Homo sapiens: one gene and its partners. The protein of the gene in region 1 purifies or fractionates together with the protein of each later gene. This does not show direct contact. Each region holds a gene or a part of one and is shown on either strand. Other genes may lie near its edges.

The links.
Region 2: the proteins of BTNL2 (region 1) and DGCR2 purify together in Homo sapiens (affinity purification with mass spectrometry; one large-scale study listed by BioGRID and IntAct). This does not show direct contact.
Region 3: the proteins of BTNL2 (region 1) and THSD4 purify together in Homo sapiens (affinity purification with mass spectrometry; one large-scale study listed by BioGRID and IntAct). This does not show direct contact.
Region 4: the proteins of BTNL2 (region 1) and ADGRG1 purify together in Homo sapiens (affinity purification with mass spectrometry; one large-scale study listed by BioGRID and IntAct). This does not show direct contact.
Region 5: the proteins of BTNL2 (region 1) and OTOA purify together in Homo sapiens (affinity purification with mass spectrometry; one large-scale study listed by BioGRID and IntAct). This does not show direct contact.
Region 6: the proteins of BTNL2 (region 1) and CELSR1 purify together in Homo sapiens (affinity purification with mass spectrometry; one large-scale study listed by BioGRID and IntAct). This does not show direct contact.
Region 7: the proteins of BTNL2 (region 1) and SUMF1 purify together in Homo sapiens (affinity purification with mass spectrometry; one large-scale study listed by BioGRID and IntAct). This does not show direct contact.

The regions. Positions count from the first base shown.
Region 1 is NC_000006.12:32,397,182-32,400,681, reverse strand, and holds part of BTNL2 (butyrophilin-like protein 2 precursor), read left to right. Parts: intron 1-3,500. UniProt on the Homo sapiens protein: Negative regulator of T-cell proliferation.
Region 2 is NC_000022.11:19,066,913-19,070,412, reverse strand, and holds part of DGCR2 (integral membrane protein DGCR2/IDD isoform 1 precursor), read left to right. Parts: intron 1-2,187; coding exon 2,188-2,313; intron 2,314-3,500. UniProt on the Homo sapiens protein: Putative adhesion receptor, that could be involved in cell-cell or cell-matrix interactions required for normal cell differentiation and migration.
Region 3 is NC_000015.10:71,121,971-71,125,470, forward strand, and holds part of THSD4 (thrombospondin type-1 domain-containing protein 4 isoform 1 precursor), read left to right. Parts: intron 1-3,500. UniProt on the Homo sapiens protein: Promotes FBN1 matrix assembly.
Region 4 is NC_000016.10:57,656,130-57,659,629, forward strand, and holds part of ADGRG1 (adhesion G-protein coupled receptor G1 isoform b precursor), read left to right. Parts: intron 1-96; coding exon 97-142; intron 143-384; coding exon 385-488; intron 489-1,243; coding exon 1,244-1,362; intron 1,363-3,265; coding exon of another isoform or gene 3,266-3,283; coding exon 3,284-3,500. UniProt on the Homo sapiens protein: Adhesion G-protein coupled receptor (aGPCR) for steroid hormone 17alpha-hydroxypregnenolone (17-OH), which is involved in cell adhesion and cell-cell interactions.
Region 5 is NC_000016.10:21,750,968-21,754,467, forward strand, and holds part of OTOA (otoancorin isoform 1 precursor), read left to right. Parts: intron 1-967; coding exon 968-1,110; intron 1,111-1,401; coding exon 1,402-1,538; intron 1,539-2,059; coding exon 2,060-2,157; intron 2,158-3,500. UniProt on the Homo sapiens protein: May act as an adhesion molecule.
Region 6 is NC_000022.11:46,384,121-46,387,620, reverse strand, and holds part of CELSR1 (cadherin EGF LAG seven-pass G-type receptor 1 isoform 1 precursor), read left to right. Parts: intron 1-1,035; coding exon 1,036-1,219; intron 1,220-2,934; coding exon 2,935-3,078; intron 3,079-3,500. UniProt on the Homo sapiens protein: Receptor that may have an important role in cell/cell signaling during nervous system formation.
Region 7 is NC_000003.12:4,460,770-4,464,269, forward strand, and holds part of SUMF1 (formylglycine-generating enzyme isoform 1 precursor), read right to left. Parts: intron 1-3,500.

The DNA of each region.
Region 1 (3,500 bases):
GGCCTTGGCCTCCCAAAGGTGCTGGGATTACAGGCATGAGCCACTGCACCCAGCCTAATTTTTGTTTTTTAAATCTCGGAGTTGGACTGAGGGTATTATTTTGCTGCACCTGAGATAAGTGGTTTAAAACATAACCAGCCGATGGCTGAGCCCCTTTGAGTTTCCCCTTTACCTCCTTACTAGCTCCCTCCTTTTTATGGCCTCTTCTCCCAGCCCAAGGCAACCAGCCTGCCTCCCTGCCTAGGTGCATAGAACGTGGATCCCTTATGTGCTCTTTCCATCAATTCCTTGCTCTCCATCAAGTCACCTGCTCCAGGAATGTGTATCCATGTGTGTGCTTTAGGTGAGCTTAAGCACACCTTTCAGCCCACAAAAGAGTTTTTGAGGAAAATCAGGGTAACAAACACAACCCAATCTCTACCAGAGTCTACTATGGCACCTTCAACCCCATTAGGCCATAAACATAAAGGGAAGGGTCCCTGGAAGGCGCAAAGTAACTCCACAATCTGAGGAGAGACACACACCTGTGTATCTTACCCTTCTGAGATCAGGAAGTAAAGCCAGTGTTTGGGGCAGGTTGACACAAGTCTGTCTCTCAAGAAGGTTTTAGGAGAAGAGTCACTCCTCTGAGTTCTCTGAGACCCACTGGAGACCCAGCACACACAATACGACCCCATGTCCTGTTGTTCCTAAGTCATGGTAACCTCCGGGGCCACAATTAACCAACACGGAAAGATGGAGCTTCCCTTTGCTTCCTGTCAGGTGGGAGAGGAGGGCTCTGGGCACGGAAGCTTTGCAGGTGAGCTCTAATGATGGGACACCCAGCTCTCTATGGAAGTCCTAAGACTGAAATCACTGCTTGTAGTCTTACAAATAATGTTTTTCATTTATAAAAATAATAGTTTTTAAAAATATTAATTGTATGCCAGGCACGATGCTGAATATGTTATGGGAATTATTTCATTTTTTCTTACAATAATTATAAAGTTTAATTGCTTTATCCTCATATTACAGCTAAGAAACAATCTTAGAGACATACATGGTTTGCCAAAAATCAGGAAGAAATGGTGATGTTTACCTTCTAATCTACATCTATCTAACTTAACAGTGCAAGTCCTTAATTACTTATGTGTGACTTTGTCAGCTCATTCATCTCTATTTTTCTCATCTTTAAAGTGAACAGGTTGAATTTAATCTCTAATGTAGTGTCCAGTTCTAAGAGATTAGATATAACTTAGCATATTTGAGAAATGAGATAGTGCATTAATTGAATATGCTGATTGAAAGAGGATTATGTGGTATGATGATGAGATTATCAGGTTTCAAGGAATCAGTGTATAATTCAGTGTACTTCACGCTCCAGAAGGGAATTAATTTTTCAGTGGATATTCAGAAGGCATTCAGAACATACAAACAATAACCAAAACAAAACAAAGCAATACATTTCAGCACAAAATTGTCTGGAAGGCTGTGTACAAAACCGTATAGAAAAAGGAGGTTAACTACTGCATGTTCACACTTATAAGGGGGAGCTGATTGGTGAGAACACATGGATGCATGGCAGGGAACAACACACACTGGACACCTGTTGGGGGATGGGGGAGGGAGAGCATCAGGAAGAACAGCTAATGGATGCTGGGCTTAACACCTGGGTGATGGGATGACCTGTGCAGTAAGCCACCATGGCACATGTTTACCTATGTAACAAACCTGCACATCCTGCACATGTACCCCGGAACTTAAAATTGAAAGAAAAAAAAAGTGGGTTAGGCATAGTGGCTCCCAAGGAGCTTGTATTCTAGTAGAACATCAATTATTAACAAACAGGGCTGCATGATTTTTTTAGCACTTTAAACTTTAGTTTTACTTGGATTCTGGACAAAAGGAGTTTTGTCTGTATCTGTAATGCATCAAATTAATTGAATCTCCATACTTACATTTTGCTTCCTTCAGTCTCCATTGAAGTCAATTTTAGCTCTTAATTACCTATGTCAGGCAGGGCAAGCCAGTTTAAGATCTAATATGTGCACAGGTCACACACGGACAGGGAATAAAATCCTCATATGGATAAAGGAGATGAGGAAACAGTCTGTTTTATTAAGTAATTTACCGTAAGCCATGTGGATGCAGAAACAGCCCCAAACTAATCCCTAGTCCATTTTTTCTGATTCTTGTCTTCAGACTTTAATAGATACATAGGAGAGGAAAATAATATTGTTTTAGGTAAAATTACAGGACAAAGCAAACAAAATGCTGGAAATAACTGGGAGTCAACTGTTACCTGGAATGGAAGGTAATAATCTGAAAATTCAAATTGTGTTGACAGGGACTTTCCTCTCTACAAAGGTAGCTGGCAGTTTTCGGCCAATGACATAATGGGATGTTAACGCCTTTGGCCAGTGACTCTATGCAGAGAACCAACAATTTTATGCTTGTGTTTCTATTATAAATGATCACACCTTATGCAAAACCATTCTTATCATTTAACAGAAAAGGACGACACTTAATTTAGAATAGAGAAAAAATGGCACGGGCAGGGCCTGATGAGAATGGAAAATGTAATATAGCTTGGGCCCAGGAAAGCCCTCAGAGAACATCTTTCCCCACTTTGCACAGTGAGAGAATTAGACCCCTTTTTTACATTCATCATTGTTTCACAATTTGTACTTTGCCGACTTCCCCAATTATTGATCTTAAAATGTTAATTTTAATTTTCAAAATTATTTGAGGACATTCAACTGGTGTGTGTCTATAACTCCACCTATGTGGAGCATTGGGGAAATAAAATATAGCGGCTGGACCAGACTTACAAGGTACTATAAAGTCCACCTAGAGGAAAGCTTCTTCAAATATCATTACCAAAAGTCCACATGAGACATGTTTTTAAACCCCTCCCTATTACCACGTCAGAGGGTGGGGATGGCTCCAACGCCTTCAAGTCTCACAGGTCTGTGCACCTCTGCTCACGCTGCAGGGTCTTCCAGGCACTTAATGCAAACTATTTTGTTCAACTCTGAAACATTATGATTTTGGTAGTTGTATAGCAAATTTACAGTTTAAGAAACTGAGGCATTAAGAAGTAGTTTAAGACAGATTAAGAAGTAGTTTAAAATCATACAGAATTGAAGTGTTAGAAGAAAAACTTTAGACAGACTAAATTTAGCAGAGTCTAACTGAGAAAAGGATGACTCATAAACAAGCCATCCCTCAGAATCAGAACGGTTTCAGAGAATTCAAAGCAGCAATTTGGTCAGACAGCATTTATGGACAGAAAATGGAAATGAGGTACAGAAAACAGAAGTGAGGTACAGAGACAGCTCTATTGGTTGCAGCCTGGCGTTTGCCGATTTGAACAGGGTTTCAACAGTTGGCTGCCTGCAACTAACAGAAGTGCAGCAGCTGCTACTCAGCTATTTATTACAAAAGTGTACTCCTAAGTTAGCCTTAGCTCCTAAGTTAGGCTTATTCATAAAATAATTTTGCAATTAAAACTCTCAGAA
Region 2 (3,500 bases), on another chromosome or scaffold:
GAGATGTTGAATTTAAGTTCAGTGACATTCTCCAGCCACACTCAGGCCTGGCCTCAGGTTTATCCCGGATATGTCTGCCTTTGCCCTTTGCCAAAGCTGCTCCATCTGCCAGAAAGCCCCTCTGTTCTTTCTCAGCTTCCAGTCTCAGGCCCAGAAGCTCAGGTGGCTCTTCCCTTCTCCACCAAGTGCTGATGCCCCATCCTAGTGGCTGCATCCCTGCATCAGAGCTACCAGCGAGTCTGTGGGTCGAGTCTCCTACCCAGAGTGTCGGGTGCTGCAGGTAGCATGGCTTAGGACATGGGACCAGTCCTAAAGAGCTGATGGTCCCCAAGTACTGCGTGTTTACAGCATCAGGCCTGTCGTGGTGCCAGTTACTGTCCCACACTGAGGTCCTTAGGTTGTATTTTGGGGTGGTAAAGTACCCCAAAGACACCTCTACCAAAAAACACAAGCCTTGAAGATGCTTCTCCCTTTGAGGTCTTCACTTTCTGTTGAAAGTGTCTCGGACACAGGTAGCATATTTTATATTTTAGTGATTCCCAGTCGAATAGCAACCCATCCCCATCACATGCCTGACAGGAGCTATGGAACTATGCTTATTGAGTACTGAGTGAGTATCCAGAGTCTCAGAAATGAGACTACATACGCACTTGTGTACAAGGTGTTTAAGGCAGCCTTTTCTAGAATAATGAAAAAAATGCAAACAGCCTAACCTCAAACCATAGAGATTATGGGGATGAAAGAAATCCATTTGTGGAATACTATGCAGCCATCAAAAGTCATGTTCCTAAGCCCATTTAAAAATATAGAAAGCTGTTTATAGTCTTAAGCTTACAAAGCAAGTCGTGAAATGGAGTGTCTGATGTGATCCCAGTATTCTTAAAGATTTGTGTAGAAAAGAGACTTGGTGAGGGGGCAGATGCTCGCATAGTTAAATATGGCCTTTGTTGTTTATTGTCTTTTCAAACTTTTGTATTTTTCAAGCATTTCACATTGAATGTTTGTTACTTTATCATGAGCAAAAAAGCATGTGGATTTTTTATTAAATAAAAACCATTGCAAAGTCTATGACACTAGCAGAACCAACCTGCTGGAGAGGGGCTCGTCAGGTGGCGCTGACTGCCGGTTCAGGTTCAGGGAAGGAGGCTTTGCAGGAGGCCTCCTAACCCTCCCTGTGACCTCCCTTGGGGAGCCGAGGCCCCACTCGCCATCTGCAGCCAGAGTGCACTTGCTGGCAGGCGTCTGTCTGTGTGCAGCCTTGCAGACCAAGTTTGTTTCCCATCTGACCTGACCTTGTACCCGATGCCCTTCATGACACATCAGGGTACACCTGTACAGAGTGGGAGGTGAGCGGGCCCATGAGGGCCCTCTCCCCTGCACCATGGCCTTGGGTAAGTCACTCCCCTTCTCTGAGTCTGCCCTTCACCTTGTGAGATGGGAGGAGTGTGGTTCTCCTTTTTCACAAGGGGGTTGGAGGACAAAAGAGAGTGTGTGGGTGGAAGCACTGGTGTGCAAATTACTATTAGATCATGCTGTATAAAACTATAGTTATTTCCTCATCTTCAGCTGCCTGTTGACACCTTCTAGCCATGCACTGAGACCTGCTGCACACCAGGGCCTGTGCCAAGCACCAAAGAGCCAGACAGGAACATACTGAGGTCCTGGCCTGGAGGCCTTCACAGCCATGGGGGACCAGCAGGCAGGGGGACAGATAGGCAGCTCAGGCCCCAGGACAAGGGCTGCAGAGGAAGGTTGCACACGTGGGTCTCCTTCATACTGGGAGAGAAGGCCCTCAAGGAAGGGGTAGGGGCAGCCTGGGCTCTGGAGAGAACTCTTTCATGGGCCATCCCCATGGGGCTGGAACTGCTGAGGGATTTTAATTTATGCAGGACCCTTTGCTGTGCTAGCAATGACCTGTTAGAAAATGCAATGAAGAGGGCCTCCATTTCACAATAGTAACTTAAAAAACAAAAACTGCCACGGCATAATTTTAATAAGAAGCACACGGGACCCATTTGATGCGAGCGGCAGTGTTTCATAGGGCTCTAAAGAAAGCCTGCATTGCCGGACTCTGTGCTACAGGCCCCCCCTCCGGCCTTGCAGCCCTGAGTGGTCTGAACCATGCTGGCCAGGGAGACTGCGACTGCACAGGCAGGACTCACAGCACACATCTCCTTTTGCTTTCAGAAGTGACCGGGGAGGTGCGTCCTCATCATGGGAAGGAGGCTGTGGATCCGCGGCAGGGGCGGGCCAGAGGAGGCGACCCTTCGCACTTCCACGCGGTGAACGTGGCGCAGCCCGTTCGCTTCAGCAGTAAGTTGCAGACCTGCCCTGACTGGGACACTGGGGAGTGCAAGCCTGACATGACCCCTGCCTTTCCAGCACTACTGTGCTGCGTGAGGGGTTTCTCAAAGCAGCCCTTGGAGGCCAGTGAGGGGAATGAATGAGGCTGCATGATGACCCACCCGCAGTCACCCAGCGCTGGAGTGGTGGTATGTGACTCAAGGCCCTAGGAAGTCAACCGGCTCTGAGGCCAGGCTGCTTGTTCTCACAAAGTGACTGCTTTTCAGGGCCAGAAGGCACTGGCCCTTGGAAATTCCAAAGTTGTATTATTCCCTTTTATAAATGAGGAAACCAGCTCTGAGTTTAGATACAGCAATAAAATGGGAAGGCTCGACTCCTTATTTATTTATTTATTTATTTATTTATTTATTTATTTAGAGACGGAGTCTCACGCTTGTCACCCAGGCTGGAGTGCAGTGGCATAATCTCAGCTTACTGAAACCTCTGCCTTCCAGGTTAAGTGATTCTCCTGTCTTAGCCTCCCGAGTAGCTGGGATTACAGGCACGTGCCATCACGCCCGGCTAATTTTTGTATTTTTAGTAGAGACCGGGTTTCACCACCTTGACCAGGCTGGTCTCGAACTCCTGACCTGAGGTGATCCACCCACCTCAGCCTCCCAAAGTGCTAGGATTACAGGCATGAGCCACTGTGTCCAGCCATTTTAAGAAAAATTTTTAAGGTGATTAGTTATTTAATAAATTACCTATGACATTGAAATTTTAAAGGGGCATGAGATCATCAAGGAAGGTTGAGGGGAGGAAAAGCCACCACTGAAATGGCCCTGAGCAGACCCTCTCAGGCGCGAGGTACCCAAGTACGCTGAGCAGCGGCTGTGGACCAGGCAGGACTGATACTGGATGGGCCTGCTGCCCTGCCTTGGGCCTGTCTGCTTGTGTTACTCCTCAGCCCCCAGACTTTCAGCACTGGGGAGCACCTCAGAGGTGACCAGGTCTGCTTCTGGCAGAACCCCCACCAACCCTGGGTGGCCAGAGTGGGGCCAGGTGTTTCCAGGTGGTCACGCATGTTGGTGCGGCTGAAGCAGGGCTGGACATGTCCTGGTGATGCACTTTGTCTCCGGCCTGTGCCCACAGCCCGAACGGGTCCCCACAGTGCAAGTGTGGTGCACAGGCTTGGTGTGTGAAGACACTGAGGCTGA
Region 3 (3,500 bases), on another chromosome or scaffold:
GTTTATTGCTGGTTGTAAGGTGAGCCCTGAGGGTAGAGCTGTGTCTTCAAGTTTTGAAGTCTCATTACAGGGCGTGTAGTGACAGTATAGCCTTTAGTTCCATTTAGTTTCTTTTCCAGAGCAGACAAGTACCCAGGACCTGCTTGACTTTAGCGATATTTTAGTTGAGGCCCAGGATTTCATTCTGCTTGAAGTTCAGAGGATCTTCTGGTCAGCTAAGCGGGGAGGAGCTGCCATTACAGAGCTCCGTGTCAGGTACTGGGATTTACCTGCGTTCTTTTATTTAATCCTCTCAACAACCTGTGTGAACTAGACACTATTATTTCTACTCTACAGCTAGAAAACTGAGGCTCAGAGAGGCTAAGGAATGTTCACAGGCTCACACAGCAAGTAGACATCAGAATGATGTTTCAATTTCAAGTCATCTGACTCCAAAACAAATACTGGCGGTGGGGCCGGAGGGAGGAACTCTCAGGCCAGTTAGTGAGTATCTCAGTGAGGAAAGGTCTCTCCCTGCTCTCAGCCTCTTACAGGATGCTCTGTCTTCTTGGCCTCTTTCACATGAGCGCATATACGCATAATGCCACTGCTAATATTGCTCTGTTTTCTCCTTGATATCGGCTTATGTTTTAATTTAGCACATGCAGATTTGTCTTTTCAACTAACAGGATTTTGTGTCAACATTTCCCACTTGCCACCTAAGCAGGGTTCCCATTTTTTAAAGCACAATGATGCTTTTCATCATTTTGCTCCATCACGGTTTCCTTAGCCATTCCCCACCCTCTATCAGGGATCTAGGTTGTTTCTAGTTTCTCCCACTCTAAAAATTGGCACTACCAACGTGAATGTTCAATTTGCTGATGTTTATTTATTTCTGATCTCATGTTCTGCTTTGGAAATACACTTCCCAGCCATGTGATTACCAGGTCAAAAGCAAGAGCTGTAATAAGAGTGGTCCGTGCTGCTCATGGGGTCTTCAGAGAAATTGCACTTGGGAGGCCCAGACAAGGGGGACCCAGAAACAGAACAGGTGCTTGTTTTCTGCCTACCCTTCCTTTCCTCACTAGTTACTGTTCTTTCCTGAGGCTCAGATTGGAGGAACTTGATACCTCACTCTTAGCAAGGGGTGTGAGAGGTACTGTTCGAGTGGTGACTTTCTGAGTTCCAGAGAGGGAAGTTATTTCAGTGTCCACAGAGGTCTCTTGGAGTGGAAGGTCTTGGCTGCTTCTGAGATTGCGCTGCTGTGCGTTAGTGGTCCTGTGTGGGCATTGCTATGCAGTCATTCACTCAGGCATCCAGTGCTTTCTGAGCCCCTACTGTGCATCAGGTGGCAGTGCCATGCACTGTAAAGTGTGTGAATTCCAGACCTGACTCTGCATGTGTGGCTTTGGGTAGATTAATCTCTTTAAGCTTCAGTTTCCTCATGTATGAAATGGGCTAACAATCTCTGTACATGCCGTAGGAATTAGAGGAGAGAGCATAGGTAAGGTGTCTGCTCAAGCCTACAATGCATGAAGGGCCAACTGTTGTGCAGGTGAACACTAGAACTTCTTTCTTCTTACAGATGAAGAAGGTGTATTCTTGCCTGGGAGTGTGAGAGGCGGGGAGTAATAGTATACTTACAGCCTTAGCAGCGGGCAGGTGAGAGGAAAATCACTGTGATAAACATGCCGTAGAGAGGCTGGGGGACCCAGACAGGCATCAGATTCAGATTGGTGGGAATTCAGAAAGACCTGGGGTGGGATCTGCCTCCCAACAGGAGGAAACAAGGTTGGGGGAGAGGGAAGAGGGAGAAAGGAAGTAGAAGCCTGTTGTGTTTTATGGGAGGGCTACATTCTTGAAGACCTCGCGGTATTCAGATCTCTCATAATTCAGACTTTTCCCCCTACAGAATAAATGTGGAGCGTGCATTTACTTGATATGGTCTCAAAACACATAGCTTTGCTTTGCTGTTGCTTCTCATATGGTCGCACTCTCTCTCACATTGCACAGTGGGCTCACTCATAAATTACCCACTTGGTATCTCGTGATGCTTTTTTGGCTTTCTCAGTTGCCAAGCTGGTGGTCGTGGTTGTTGCTGTTATCATCACCATCATCATCATCTCTGTGTGTTTTCAGTCTGACACCAGCACCACCATTTGACAGACTGTCAAGATTGGGGGTCCGCATATTTTCTTGGAAAGGGCCAAACATTAATATTTTGACTTTGCAGGCTATGTGGTCTTTGTTGCAACTAATCAGCTTTGCCTTTTGAGTGCAAAAGAAGCCATAGACAATAGATAAATGAACAGGCAGGACTGTGTTCCAGTGAAACTGACTTATGGGCACTGCAATTTTAATTTCATATAATTTTTATATGCCATAAAATGTTCTTTTCTTGATTTTTATTCAATCATTTGAAAATGTGGCAAAAACAGGCAGAGGGTCAGGTTTAACCTGTGGGCCAGAGTTTGTGGACCCCTGGTCTAGACGCTTACAATATTTGAAAATTGTTTTAAATTGTAGGAAGAGTGAATGTTAAAATATCCTGATAGTCAACAAAATCATTCACGGACATTCCAGTGCTCATAAGAAAAATGCTTAATTCACAAGTTCTGTCAAAAGATTGGGGTATTTATCAGCTTGAATGGTACCAACATAGGCGGTTCCTTTAATACAATTTTAAATTATTTAGGTAGTTATTCTAGTGAATTAAAAATTTTAAATCATATTATTTCAAAATTTTGGTACCCAATAACCTTATTAATATTGTTATTGTCATTCTATTTCGTGACTTAAATTGTGTACCCTGGCTAGGCACGGTGGCTCATGCCTGTAATCCCGGCACTTTGGGAGGCCGGGATGAGAAGATCGCTTGAGCCCAGGAGTTCGAGACCAGCCTGGGCAACAAAGTGAGACTCCATCTCTACAAAACATCAAACTATTAGCCAGGCATGGTGGTGTGCACCTGTGGTCCCAGCTGGTGGTGTGCACCTGTGGTCCCAGCTACATATATGGGAGGCTAAAGTAGGAGAATTGCTTGAGCCCAGGAGTTTTGAGGCTGCAGTGAGCCATGTTCATGCAACTGCAATCCAACCTGGGTGACAGAGTGAGACCCAGCCAGAAAGAGAAGAGAAGAGGAGAGAAGGTGAAGAGGAAGGGGAAAGGGAAGGAGAAAGGAAGGCAAGGAAAGGGAAAGGAAAAGAAAAGAGAAAAGAGAAGAAAAGAAAAAATTTTATACCCTACACTGGTTTATTATTGTGTACTCTCCTGGAGTCCAGCAGCTCTGCCTGACTCCCAACAGCCTGCTGGCTGGAGTTTGGAACTTGATTCTAGCTGGAATTTTTTTATTGTAAAAGGCAGGCGAGAGCATAGACGGAGCACCAAGGCTTGTGTCTGGCACACAGTGAATGTGGAATAAACTTTTGCTCCCTCTTTTCCCTTTTCTTTCCTCCTCACTCAAAAGTTCTGTATATTTGGTCAGATCCAAAACATGCTGAGCCTCTTTGAAATTGTTACTT
Region 4 (3,500 bases), on another chromosome or scaffold:
TGGCTTGACTGTGTTCTAGACTTCCTCTGCCTGGCCTGTAAAGTTGGAGGGGTGGGGGGCTGTCACAGAAACCACTCTCCTTTCTTGTCCCTACAGAAGAATGTGACTCTGCAATGTGTGTTCTGGGTTGAAGACCCCACATGTGAGTATGCAGGGGTCTCTGGGCTGGACAAGTATCTGGAAGAGAAATAGAGTCCTGGGGGGTGGGGGAGGTGGGGTTAATCACCGAGGGCTTCCTGGAGAAAGGAGGACTTTGAAGAGAGAGCGATGGCAGGCTATGAGTAGGCCGGGTGGAAGAATGACACAGTCGTGCTTTTGGGGGTGGACACAGTGGGGTCCTGGAGGACTGGACTTGATTGGAGCCCCGTGCTGTCCCCTCCTCAGTGAGCAGCCCGGGGCATTGGAGCAGTGCTGGGTGTGAGACCGTCAGGAGAGAAACCCAAACATCCTGCTTCTGCAACCACTTGACCTACTTTGCAGTGCTGATGGTGAGGGTCCCTGCTCCCACCTCGCAGCCACACCCCAGGCCGTGTGCTTGTTCTGTGCAAGCACTTTTCATATATTCAGTCATTTATTCCTCATAACAGCTCTCCAAGGTAGCTTCTATTGTTGTCCCATTTTATAGATGAGGAAATGGAGGCTCAGAGAGGTTAAGCAATTTACCCGTGGCCACACAGCTAGTCAGTGAAAGAGCTGGTTTGTAGAGCCCCTGCTCTTTATTCCCAAATTTTGGTGTGTACGAAAATGCAGATTCCTGGCCCTCACCTAGGGTTCTGATTTGGCAGTGATGGGGCCAAGAGTGTTTCTAATGAGGCCCCTGAGGTGGCCTCCAGTGCCCCCAAGACCTCAGAATTCATGCTCCCAGGACTGTAGGATTCTGCCTGTGGGTATCCACCTGGGGCTTGAACACCCCTGGGTGTGGGAATCTCATTCCCTCACAGGAAACCTATTCCCATGTTAAATGTTATAGAAGAATAATCAATGCCAGGACAGAATAGGGGTTCTCTCATGAAGGGTTCTTGGCCTCTGTGGGTCAGGAAGCCGCTTGAGAATGTGGTCAAATCTAAAGATGCCCCCACTCCAGAAAAATGCACTTATGGGACCACATTCTGCTCAGTTGGGAGAGGGGGTTCTTAGGCTTCCGAGGCCCACCAGGGACCCCAGGTTAGCCCCTCACGCAGGGCAAGCCTCCAGGTTGTGTGGGGGACACAGAGGCCAGCTCTCTCCTGTCTCCTGGGGCCAGGTCTCCTCGGTGGAGGTGGACGCCGTGCACAAGCACTACCTGAGCCTCCTCTCCTACGTGGGCTGTGTCGTCTCTGCCCTGGCCTGCCTTGTCACCATTGCCGCCTACCTCTGCTCCAGGTGAGGCCTGAAAGGGGTGGGACAGGGGAGGGGACCCTCCATTGCACACACCTCCACCAGGGCGCCGCACACATCTCCGGTCATGGCCCGCCCGCATGACCTGGAACTGTGTGTGTGGTTAGGGGAGCTGTTTGGGGTAAGCTGACCCTTGGGGGCCACGTCTCCTCCTCAGATCAGTGGTGTTTGGATAACATAGTATTTACAAATTTTAGCTGTCGACATTGTATTTATTTATTTTTATTTTTATTTTATTATTATTATTTTTTTGAGACAGAGCCTTGCCTCTGTCGCCCAGGCTGGAGTGTAGTAGCATGATCTCGGCTCACTGCAACCTCTGCCTCCCGGGTTCAAGTGATTCTTGTGCCTCAGCCTCCTGAGTAGTTGGGACTACTGGCGCCTGCCACCACACCTGGCTAATCTGTATATTTTTAGTAGAGACGGGGTTTCACCATGTTGCTCAGGCTGGTCTCGAACTCCTGACCTCAAGTGATCCACCCACCTCAGCCCCCCGAAGCGCTGGGATTACAGGCATGAGTCACTGTGCCAGGCTAATTGTCAACATTTAAAATTGAGAGAGTCCACCTAAGAATCTGTTTCTTTCCTAGAGTAAGACAGGAAAGCAAAATAAAAAACTTAAAAAAGGAAAGATTTTTCATTTCTGCCTTTGAATAAGCAGATTTGTGAGAGCACTGGGTGGACACAATAATATCACAGCGGTAATGATCATACTTAACGTGTGTCAAACTTCCCGTGTGCCATGCACTGTTCTAAGTGTTTTACATGTGTGAACTCAATTCATCCTCACAACAGCCCTATGAAGGAACACTCAGAGAGGGTAAGTGACTTGCTTGAGGTCACACAGCAAGGAAGTGGCAGAGGTCAGATTGTCAGTGCTTGGCTTGGCCTAAATTGGGGTCCACTTGCCCTCAGCGCTGAACCCATTTGGGTAGAGGAGAGGCACCCTCGGTTCTCACTGTCCCCAGCCACGAGGAAGGAGAGGAAAGTGAAGCTGTATTTATGCGTGTGCACAAGCACGTGTGTGCCTATATGACTGTCCTGTGTGTGCACAGCTGTGTACCTGGGGAGCTAAGTAGGTGATGGTGATGAGGAAGGACAGCTGGGTGATGAGATGGGCTCGGCGGAAGGCTGGGGGTGGAGGCAGAAGTCCTCAACACCCAGTTGCTCACAAACATGCCCAAGGACACAGCACAGGAACCCTTAGGAACTGAGCACCTTATCTGTGTCAGATGCTTTGTGTCAGTGTAACTCTCACCCCAACCCTATGAGGGTACCATCCTCCCACTTCACAGATAGGCAAACTGAGAGTCTCAAGGGGAGGGGACCAGCTGAAGATGGTGCCATGAGTTAGGGGCAGGGCAGGGTGGGACTCCAGGATGGTGACACTGGGGCCTGCATGTTCTGCTGCACCCTCTAGGGCCATGTAGAATCCTGGAGTGGGGGTGGGGTGGGGTGTGCACACATTGACTTGCAAACCTCAGACAGACCGATGCGGGCAGCCCACACTCAGACTCACAGGTGCACAGTTGTGCAGACAGACGGGAAGACACAGAATGTGGATGGCATGGATTCTCCAACATGGTGAAAATGCCAAAGTGTTTCCGCTCTGACTTTGAGAGTATCTGGTTTATTACTGTGGTTGTCTTCCTCGCTCTGCCTGGCTGAGGCTTCTGTTAAACGTGCACGTGGTGCCTGAGTCTGTGGGTGCTGGGCACACAGTAGGTGCACAGGGGGATGTGGGGAACAGTTTGGCTGCAGCCACAGGAATAGGATAGGGGCCATGTATGACTGCATGTGTGTGTCGGGGTGGGGGGCAGTCTGGGAAGGCTTCCTGGAGGAGATGTGGGCACACTCCCCTCTCTACCTTCCCACACTGGCCCACCAGGGTGCCCCTGCCGTGCAGGAGGAAACCTCGGGACTACACCATCAAGGTGCACATGAACCTGCTGCTGGCCGTCTTCCTGCTGGACACGAGCTTCCTGCTCAGCGAGCCGGTGGCCCTGACAGGCTCTGAGGCTGGCTGCCGAGCCAGTGCCATCTTCCTGCACTTCTCCCTGCTCACCTGCCTTTCCTGGATGGGCCTCGAGGGGTACAACCTCTACCGACTCGTGGTGGAGGTC
Region 5 (3,500 bases), on another chromosome or scaffold:
GAGTAAACATTGGAATTGAAGGGGTGAACATATTTCTGTAGGACCACAGAGGAAGAAAAAATCATTAAGGGGTAAACATATTTCTGTAGGACCATAGAGGAAGAAAAAATCATTCTGGCTGAAACCTCATGAAGAAGGTGACATTTGAGTTGAACCAAAGAAAAAAAAAAAAGAATGTCTGCACTTGGAAGTGCAGAAGGGCATTTCAGATGAAAGGACTGGTTTGAACAAAGGCAAAGAGACAGGAAATTATAAGGTTTTGTTGGAGGTTGTGGAAAGGCTGGGTGCGGTGGCTCATGCCTATAATCCCAGCACTTTGGGAGGCCGAGGTGGGTGGATCACTTGAGGTCAGGAGTTTGATACCAGCCTGGGCAACATGGTGAAACCCCGTCTCTACAAAAAATACAAAAAGCCAGATGTGGTGATGTGCACCTGTAATTCTAGCTACTTGGGTGGCTAAAGCACGAGAATTGCTTGAACCTGGGGAGGTGGAGGTTGCAGCGAGCTGTGCCACTGCACTCCAGCCTGGGTGACAGAGCAAGACTCCGTCTCCAAAAAACGAAAAAAAAAAAAAAAAGGGAGAAGAAACGTTGTGGAAAAAGATGCTGGAAAAGTTTGGATCCTGATGCAGAAGAAGTTGTATGTCCAAACTGTCTGAGGGTCATAAGAGTGACTGAAGGAAATAAGCAGCAGACACACAGGACACAAGTGCCTTTAATATTGGTGAAGGATGTAAGAGATTCATTGCCTGAAGACACTTTCATAGATTAGGGGACATACTCAGTTGAAGTAGTATCTTAAGGACATGAACTTGGATGCAGAGGCCAGGATGGTTTGGAGTGGGGATTCCAGAGGAGTAGGATGGGAGATCAGTCAGGAGACTACAGCAACAGCTTATTTATCCCCTCAGGCCTGGGGACCTTGATCATTCCTGGATGGTTTATCTTTTATTCTTACTATTTTTTAGGCTGAATCCATTTTGCAAGGGTACCTGGATGATTCAGGATACAGTATCCAGGACCTGAAGAGCTTTCATTTGGTAGGACTTGGTGCAACCCTGTGTGCTATAAACATCACTGAAATCCCACTTATAAAGATCTCAGAATTCAGGTAACTAAAATATGAATGTGCAAAATGGCAAATGGGTTAATTCATCCATCCATCCATCCATCCATCCATCCATCCATCCATCCATCCATCCAGATATTCCACCTCCTGACACTTGGCACCTTTCTGGGCTAAAATCCCACTGGGCTAATGGGATAAGCTGGATCTGCTGTCCCTGCTGAGCCTACTGTGCAGTGTGTGTGTGTATGTGTGTGTGTGTGTGTGTGTGTTTGTTTGTTTTTGGCTGAAGAGTCCAAGCTCATATTATATCCCTCCCTCTTTAACCACTACCAGGGTGGTAGTGGCCAGAATTGGGACCCTGCTCTGCAGCACACATGTCTTAGCCGAGTTTAAGAGGAAGGCTGAAGTTGTGTTTGGGGATCCCACTGAGTGGACCAGTTCTGTCTTGCAGGAGCTTGGGACCATTGCAGGTAAGACTCACCCTGAGCATACCTTTCTCTCTCTTTCCAAACTTAAATGTGGGGACACAAAATAAAACATTATCCTTGGCCATGTGTAGCAAACATCAGTGGCGTTACAGTAGAACCTACATTTCATGATTTGAAGTTGCAGAGGGTGGGTCTGCAAATCTGCTTTTAAAACAAGCTCTTTTGGAGATTCTTGTGTACACTAAAGTTTGGAAAACCGCTAGTTTAGAATGTGATTTAATTGGCCCCTAAGTAGGTTTATACAAAATTTGAAAGTGTGTAAATTGAAGTTCCTTCTGGGCATGCGTTTCACTGTAGGAGGCCAATCAGGGCTAATGTGACCCACATTTTTTTTTTCTGAGTTGATGAAGGAACTTGATTCCCCAGTGTGATTTCCAGGGCCTTTTGTAAGGAATGATGCCTGCCTAGAACACTCAGATCTGAACATTATGCAGCACCATTAATAAAACAAGCGGAGTTCTGATGGCTTGAACTAAACCCCCGTGATTCCTTTTTCTCCCCAGCTGGATTAACTAAGGCAGAGCTCCGGATGCTTGACAAGGATTTGATGCCATATTTCCAGCCATCAGCAATAAAATGCCTTCCTGATGAGATATTCAAAGTAGGTGCTCAGTTCTTCAAGGAGAAATGGGAGCTTGACCCCATTTCAAATCACACAGGGAAACAGGTGATGGGCCTTGGAATTTAGAGGCTTGTGACCAGGCTCTGCTGATGGGGTCAGAGGAGATCTGTGTGAGTTTAGGTGTTTTTAAAAAACATTTTTCTTAAAATTACAATATGTAGTTTAATTATATTTATTTTTACGGTCATCTTCTCTTCTTCTAGCAGGTGGTACTGATTTTCTACTTATGGTGGTATGACAGGTTCATAAACCCTTACGAAAACCCCTGGGGACAGATATAGTTCAGAATTCAGAATTTCTCAGATTTTGAAAAGATCACCCTGTACATTTACTGTATGTAACTTCATACCCCCAGCAGTGTCTGGGGAAGCACCTTGTAAGCAAACACATTAATATTTCTGTGAAGAAATCTGTGACAAGCCACACTAATTGGAATAAATAGAGACTATAAATAAATAGCCTCACATTACTTCAGGTCAAGTTTTGCTGATAAATAAGTTTGACTTAAACTTTGGGGGAAAACTTGCAGTTTTCAGATTATTTTTGGACTTTGGAATTGCAGATGAGGGATTGTGGACCTCTGTAACATTTCCTTTTAAGATATAATTAAATAAAAATATTTTAGTTGATTTAGGTCAGGCATGGTGGCTCACACCTGTAATCCCAACATTTTGGGAGGCTGAGACAGGCCAATCACCTGAGGTCAGGAGTCTGAGACCAGCCTGGCCAATGTGGTGAAACCCCATCTCTATGAAAAATACAAAATTAGCTGGGCGTGGTGGTGGATGCCTGTAATCCCAGTTACTTGGGAGGCTGAGGCAGGAGAATCACTTGAACCCGGGAGACAGAGGTTGCAATGAGCCAAGACCACACCATTGCACTCCAGCCTGGGCAACAAGAGCGAAACCATCTCTCTCTCTCTATATATATATATTTTTTTCTATATATATATATTTTTAGTTGATTTAAAGAAAAGTATTAGGAAAATCACAAGAGGACAGGTGAAAAACTGCTATGAAAAAATTGAGAGGGTGAAATTGGATCATTTGAAGGAAGGGAAGCAGGGTATCTAATGACAGGTCCTTTTTTTCTGTCTGTATACAAGATTAGGGGAGTGTTTGGTGGGAATAGTCTGCTCTGATGAGGAGGCAGTCATTCTGGTGTTCCTGTTTGCTGCGTAATGTGGGAACACATTTTGTCCAGCACTTCTGGATAAAACACACAAACCAGGCTCGACAAACTCCCCCAGTGCCACATCACTTGTTCATTTCAAGAAAGATAGCTGAGGCCGGGTGCAGTGGCTCACACCTGTAATCCCAGCA
Region 6 (3,500 bases), on another chromosome or scaffold:
TTGGGAGGCCGAGATGGGCAGATTGCCTGAGCCCAGGAGTTCGAGACCAGCCTGGGCAACATGGTGAAACCCTGTCTCTTCTAAAATATGAAAAAAATCAGCTGGGCGGGGTGGTGGGAGGCTGAGGCACGAGAATTGCTTGAACCCGGGAGGCAGAGGCTGCAGTGAGCCAAGACTGTGCCACTGCACTCCAGGCTGGACAACAAAGTGAAACTCTGTCTCAAAAAACAAAAACAAAACAAACAAACAAAAAGACTTCCTTATCTATTTGAATTCAACTTTGATTAATGTTTGATCCTATTTATAAACTTAGACCATGAAATTCCCCTAAGTATTTTAAATGGAATTAATATATGTCATGTAGTTGATTTTTTGTTTTGTATTTCAATTGTTCGGCTAGCAAACAGACCTTCCAAGCATTTAAGCAGTGCTTGTACATCTAGTAAATTAAGCTAAGAATATGAAGCATCTTTAATTCTCTAGATTTTAATATACTTTGTGAGCTTAGTAACATTTTTTTATTCCTCTTAAGATAAACTTTTTGAAAAAATATTTGGGAACTAGGCCAGGCGTGGTGGCTCACGCCTGTAATCCCAGCACTTTGGGAGGCCGAGGCAGGTGAATCACCTGAGGTCAGGAGTTCAAAACCAGCCTGGCCAACATGGTGAAGCCCCGTCTCTACTAAAAATACAAAAATTAGCCGGGTGTGGTGGCACATGTGTGCCTGTAATCCCAGCTACTCGGGAGGTTGAAGCAAGAGAATTCCTTGAACCCAGGAGGCGGAGGTTGCAGTGAGCCGAGATGACACCACTGCATTCCAGCCTGGGCGACAAGAGCGGAAGTGTGTCTCAAAAAAAAACACAAAAAACAACAAAAAACAAAAAACAACTAATATTAAAGAGCACAGTCTAAAGTGTAGGGCTGGAATGAATGAATGAGCCCACTAGGCAAGCAAAGGCTTTCAGGGCAGGTGTCCCTCCGTCCCACGAGCCAGGCCTCCGCAGGCTGAGTACTGAGTGCTGTCTGTCTGACCAGGACGTCATCCACTCGGGCAGCGCCCTCCTGGCCCCAGCCACCAGGGCGGCGTGGGAGCAGATCCAGCGGAGCGAGGGCGGCACGGCACAGCTGCTCCGGCGCCTCGAGGGCTACTTCAGCAACGTGGCACGCAACGTGCGGCGGACGTACCTGCGGCCCTTCGTCATCGTCACCGCCAACATGAGTAAGGCGCTGGCTGCGTTGGGGGTGGAACCCTGCTACCATCAGGGGTGTGCCCCAGAGCTAGGCCCCCATGGGGTGAAGCAGGTGGGCTCCCGGCCCCCCCTTGGCCATGCTCTTAGAAAAATGATTGTGAGGCCGGGCACAGTGGCTCATACCTGTAATCCCAGCACTTTGGGAGATCGGGACAGGCAGACCACATGAGGTCAGGAGTTGGAGACCAGCCTGGGCAAAATGGTGAAACCCCATCTCTACTAAAAATACAAAAAGTAGCCAGGTGTGGTGGTGCATGCCTGTAATCCCAGCTACTCAGGAGGCTGAGGAAGGAGAATCACTTGAACCTGGGAGGCAGAGGTTGCAGTGAGCTGAGATTGCGCCATTGCACTCCAGCATGGGTGACAGAGCGAGACTCCATCTCAAAAAAAAAAAAGCCGGGCGCGGTGGCTCACGCCTGTAATCCCAGCAATTTGGGAGGCCAAGGTGGGCGGATCACAGGGTCAGGAGATCAAGACCATCCTGGCTAACATGGTGAAACCCCGTCTCTACTAAAAATACAAAAAAGTAGCCGGTCGTGGTGGTGGGCGTTTGTAGTCCCAGCTACTCGGGAGGCTGAGGCAGGAGAATGGCGTGAACCCGGGAAGCGGAGCTTGCAGTGAGCCGAGATCATGCCACTGCACTCCAGCCTGGGCGAGAGAGCCAGACTCCGTCTCAAAAAAAAAAAAAAAAAAAAATATTCGGCAGGTAGGCCTCTGTTTCCTCATCTGTAAATGGAGCCTTTGGGAAGACAGTCTGTGATGACGTACCCGTGGCTCCCAGGGGACAGGTCCCGGGCTAGGGAGATGTTGGGCCATGATCTTGGGGGTCCGGCAGGGCTTCCAAACCCTCAGGTGTGAGACTCTAGAAGGGTGGGTGTCGAGGACCCCGCCTCACTCCAGGCTCACTGTAGACAGGTGTAAGTACAGGCGGGATGCAGGAAGTTGGAAGTCAGTTCTGTTCTAAAGATGGTCAGTCAGCTGGGCGTGGTAGTTCACACCTGTAATCCCAGCACTGGGAGGCTGAGATGGGCAGATTGCTTGAGCCCAGGAGTTCGAAACCAGCCAGGCGCCATAGTGAGACCCTGTCTCTATTAAAAATAAAAAATAAAAATTAGCCAGGTGTGGTAGCATGCTCCTGTATTCCCAGCTACTTGAGGCTGAGGTGGGAGGATCGCTTGAGCGCAGGAGGACGAGGCTACAGTGAGCTGAGATTGTGCTACTGCACTCCAGCCTGGGTGATAGAGTGAGATCCTGTCTCAAAAATAAATATAAGTAAATAGGCTGGGCGTGGTGGCTCATGCCTGTAATCCCAGCACTTTGGAAAGCCGGGGCATGCAAATTACTTGAGGTCAGGAGTTTGAGACCAGCCTGGCCGACATGATGAAATCCCATCTCTACCAAAAATACAAAAAATTAGCCAGGCGTGGTGGTGCCTGCCTGTAATCCCAGCTACTTGGGAGGCTGAGGCAGGAGATATTGCTTGAATCTGGGAGGCGGAGGTTGCAGTGAGCTGAGATTGCGCTACTGCACTCCAGCCTGGGAGACACTGCGAGACTCCACCTCAAAAATAAATAAATAAATATGGCCAGCCAGCGTCAGTGTGACAGTTGTGGTCATTTTGAAAACAGCAGGGGTTCAAGAAAGCCCTGGGAGTTATGTCTGATTAAAGGAACTGTCCCCCCAGTTCTTGCTGTCGACATCTTTGACAAGTTCAACTTTACGGGAGCCAGGGTCCCGCGATTCGACACCATCCATGAAGAGTTCCCCAGGGAGCTGGAGTCCTCCGTCTCCTTCCCAGCCGACTTCTTCAGACCACCTGAAGAAAAAGGTAAAACCGCTTAGAAACCTGCTGCTGCCCTCGGAGTCCCCAGCGTTCAGGGAGGGGAGGGCCCCGCTGCGGGCATCGCAGGACCTGCGCACTGAAGATCTGGGCCAGAGTGTTCCGAGTGCTCTCTGGTGCCAGGTCCTGTTGGTGACAGCAGGTTGTTTTGTTCAAGTGCTCAGGTACAGGCTGAACATCCTAATCCTGAAATCTGAAATGCCCCAGAACCTGAACCTTCTTGAGCACCAACCTGACACTTAAAGGAAATGCTCATTGGAGCGTAAGCATGAAACAATAAAAAAATCAAAATCCAGGCCAGGCGCGGCGGCTCACGCCTGTAATCCCAGCACTTTGGGAGGCCGAGGCGGGCAGATCACCTGAGGTCAGGAGTTCGAGACCAGCCTGGCCAACGTGGTAAAACCCCGTCT
Region 7 (3,500 bases), on another chromosome or scaffold:
ACCTCAGCCTCTACGCAGCTGGCACTACAGGTGAACACCAACACACCCTGCTAATTTTTTTTTTTAGTAGACACGAGGTCTTGTTATGTTGCCCAGGCTAGTCTCCAACTTCTGAGTTCAAGTGATACTCCTGCTTCAGCCTCCCAAAGTGCTGGGCTTACAGGCATGAGCCACCGCATCCCACCCAAAGTATCTTAATTCTGTGTTTTCATCTTCCCTAGAACCTAGGCTCTTTGAGGACCAGAAATGAATCTTTTATTTCTATATCCCCACTGCCTAGCATGGTGCATGGTCCACAGCAGACACAAAAATCTTTACCAATTGAATGAGGTCATGACTGTAATGAGGAATTTATCATTTGAATTATGCATAATTATAAAAATGCTATTTAATTTATAACAGTTCTAGACATGCATAACATGTCAACATCACAGTGAAACCTGTCTAACAGATGTAGGTCAAGGACCGAACTAGGTTGTCCATTATTCTCACTATACTCTAAGTGCTGGGACACAAGATAACCCAGTCCTAAAAGGAGAAATCAACATTTTAAGCAGCTCTACAAAGAAGTAGAAAAATTGAAGACATCAGACAAAAGTTTCAAGAGCAGTCTTAAAATGATTAAGAGGCTCTAATAAGAGATTTCATAAAAGACTTAAAGAAAAAGCTTTCCTGTGGCAAATACTTCCTGTTAGGAGAACAGTTGCTCATCCCTCAGCTCAAAGGACCACAGGAAGCTGTGCCCATTGTACCTAATGAACTTTTACAATTATCTAACTTTTCTCATCTTCTTCTCCCTCAAGGTGAGTACCAACAATGCTAATGCAATCATGACTTCCATGTGAACTTCCGGCCGAGTTTTTTTTTTTTCCTTCTTTCATTAACCATCAGAGATAGCCAGTGCTGAATAAGCCAAGTTTCCATTCTGGAGACTATAGATAAAAATAGCCTGGATCACTCTGAGTGGATCATAATTTCTCATTTATACTAATGAAATAAAGTTTTCTGTCCTACAAATGTCAAATGTCATTCAAGTGAAAACCAGAGAACCAAGTGTCTCACTCTGTAGGATCCAAAGCCACATAAAAAGGACCATTTTAGTCAACTCTTCACTGAAGGTTCAAATTCAAACAATCCATATCTCCTCCAATCTGAAGGTGAGATAACCCCTTCCCTGCCACACCACAGCTTCTGCCACTGCCACTCAAGCCAGAAGCATAAGTGAAGTAAAGAATGACTCTATTATTCATTGGAATAACAGAACCATATGTGGGCTACACACTTAGGCCATGTGCAGTGGGCACTGCTATTTTGGTCCATCCGGCACCCAATCCCTCTACTTCTTGTAAAATACTGAAGTTCCTTTCCAAAACCATTTCTTAAGCTTTCTAAGTGGCCCAGGGGTACTGGATGACTCTATCCTACTTCCCAACCCCCACCAAGCCTGGCCAACCATAGCATTCTTTTGACCACGGAGATGTAATTAGGGATAGGCCCAAGACCCAATCAAAGTTCATCTTTGAACTTTTGCTGGAGCTACCAGGAAAGAACTTTTTCTCTTCTAGTTATCTTATCAGTAGGAGAAGGGACATTACCTGACAATGGAGCCGACTATGCAGAAGAGCCAAGAGATAGCCAAAGAGAAAGGCCTTGGAGATGCTGCCTGAGGCCCTGTATCCAGGTGTGTCTGGGGCCATATTTACTCTTGAACTTCCCAACTAGGGGAGCTATAAATGTCCCTTCCAGTTTTTTCCTGCTTAAGCCAGTCTTGTCTTTTTTTCACTTGCTACCGTAAGATTTTTGTCTTGTACACAAAAATAGAATCAGCTCATACGTAACTTTTTTGTGTAACTTCTCCTTTTCCTTCTTTCCTCTCCTCAACCTTAACATTAAAAGCTAAAGGCTCTTGTTCTGAGTCCCCTCTAATAAAAAATAAAATAAAATAAGCTAAAGGTTCATGAGAAAGCTGGGTGAATAAGAGAAGCATGCTCTCTGGATCTGTCCACAAACTCCTGCCTTATCTATCTATACAGGGCTTATTTATCTATACCATTCTGTCACCCTCCTGCCTCTACAGACAGACACTAATCATAGATGAAATGACATTCAAAGTTTCTTGCAGTTCTGAGCTATATGATTCCTTTAAGCCTCAGTTGCCTCATCTGTAAAGTGGGAGATGATCTCTCTCACAGGATTCTTAGGAGGATGAATACAGCAAAAGAATACTTTACAAATGTTTCTTGAAAAAGTATGTGACCTTCTCTATTCCCAAGGCAGTTTCTCAATACTGTATCCACCAAAAAAGGAAACACAGGTCATTCAAGAAATTATTACAGAATGCCTAAAATGTATAAGGCACGTGGGGGATATAGAGATTAAAACATCTAAAAATGCTTCCAATGTAGAATATCAGACAACTACAAAACTAGCACTACATTAGGGCTGGGCGCGGTGGCTCACGCCTGTAATCCCAGCACTTTGGGAGGCAGAGGCAGGTGGATCACGAAGTCAAAAGATCGAGACAATCCTGGCCAACGTGGTAAAACCCCGTCTCTACTAAAAATACAAAAATTGGCCAGGCGTGGTGGCAGGTGCCTGTAGTCCCAGCTACTTGGGAGGCTGAGGCAGGAGAATCATTTGAACCCAGTAGGCAGAGGTTGCAATGAGCCGAGATTGCACCACTGCACTCCAGCCTGGGTGACAGAGCGAGACTCCGTCTCAAAAACAAAACAAAACAAAACAAAAAAACACTAGCACCATATTGAAGAAAATATACAAGTTGTCATCAAACAACAACAAAATAAGCTATGGGAACTGAGAGGATAGAAAAACTACTTCTTTGTAGGAGGTGGAAAGGTTTCATGGAAGAGACGGCATTCGATTGTGCCTCATTGCCCAGGGAAGCATTACCAGTCAGAAACCTCCTCAGACAGGAAATCAAGACTGACTTTATCCATATGTACAGACATGCCACCTACAATCTTAGCATCCCATGATCCTAAATGCCTTTCAAATAACTCTTCTAAAAGATAAAAGCAGACTAAAACATTTTGCTTCCTTGTTACAAAATCATAACCCACGCAGAAAACTATTAGGATAATTTTCTCAATGAGAATCATATTTTTATAACCAGAGGGAATACACATTAAATTTTTAAACATCTATATTGTTTCCCAGACAATTCTAATCGCCATAACTTTCTAGTGAAACTGAAAATTTCTTGAGGGCAAAGCCCAGTGTTATTTCTCTGTGCCCCTCACCTTGCCACACACACTCATTGTATGAATACACAAAAACAAAAAAAGACTCATCTAAAAAGTGTTACATTAAAAAGTGTGAACATGTCACTCCCAGATCTTAAATCACTTATGTTTCCCAGCACACACCACGCATTTCCACAATGTGCCATGTGTTGATACTATTCTCCTTCTTGGAATGTCCTTGAATCTGGAATTCCATTCCCAGCTCCGAAAAATATTTCCTCCAAGGCCTAGCTCAAA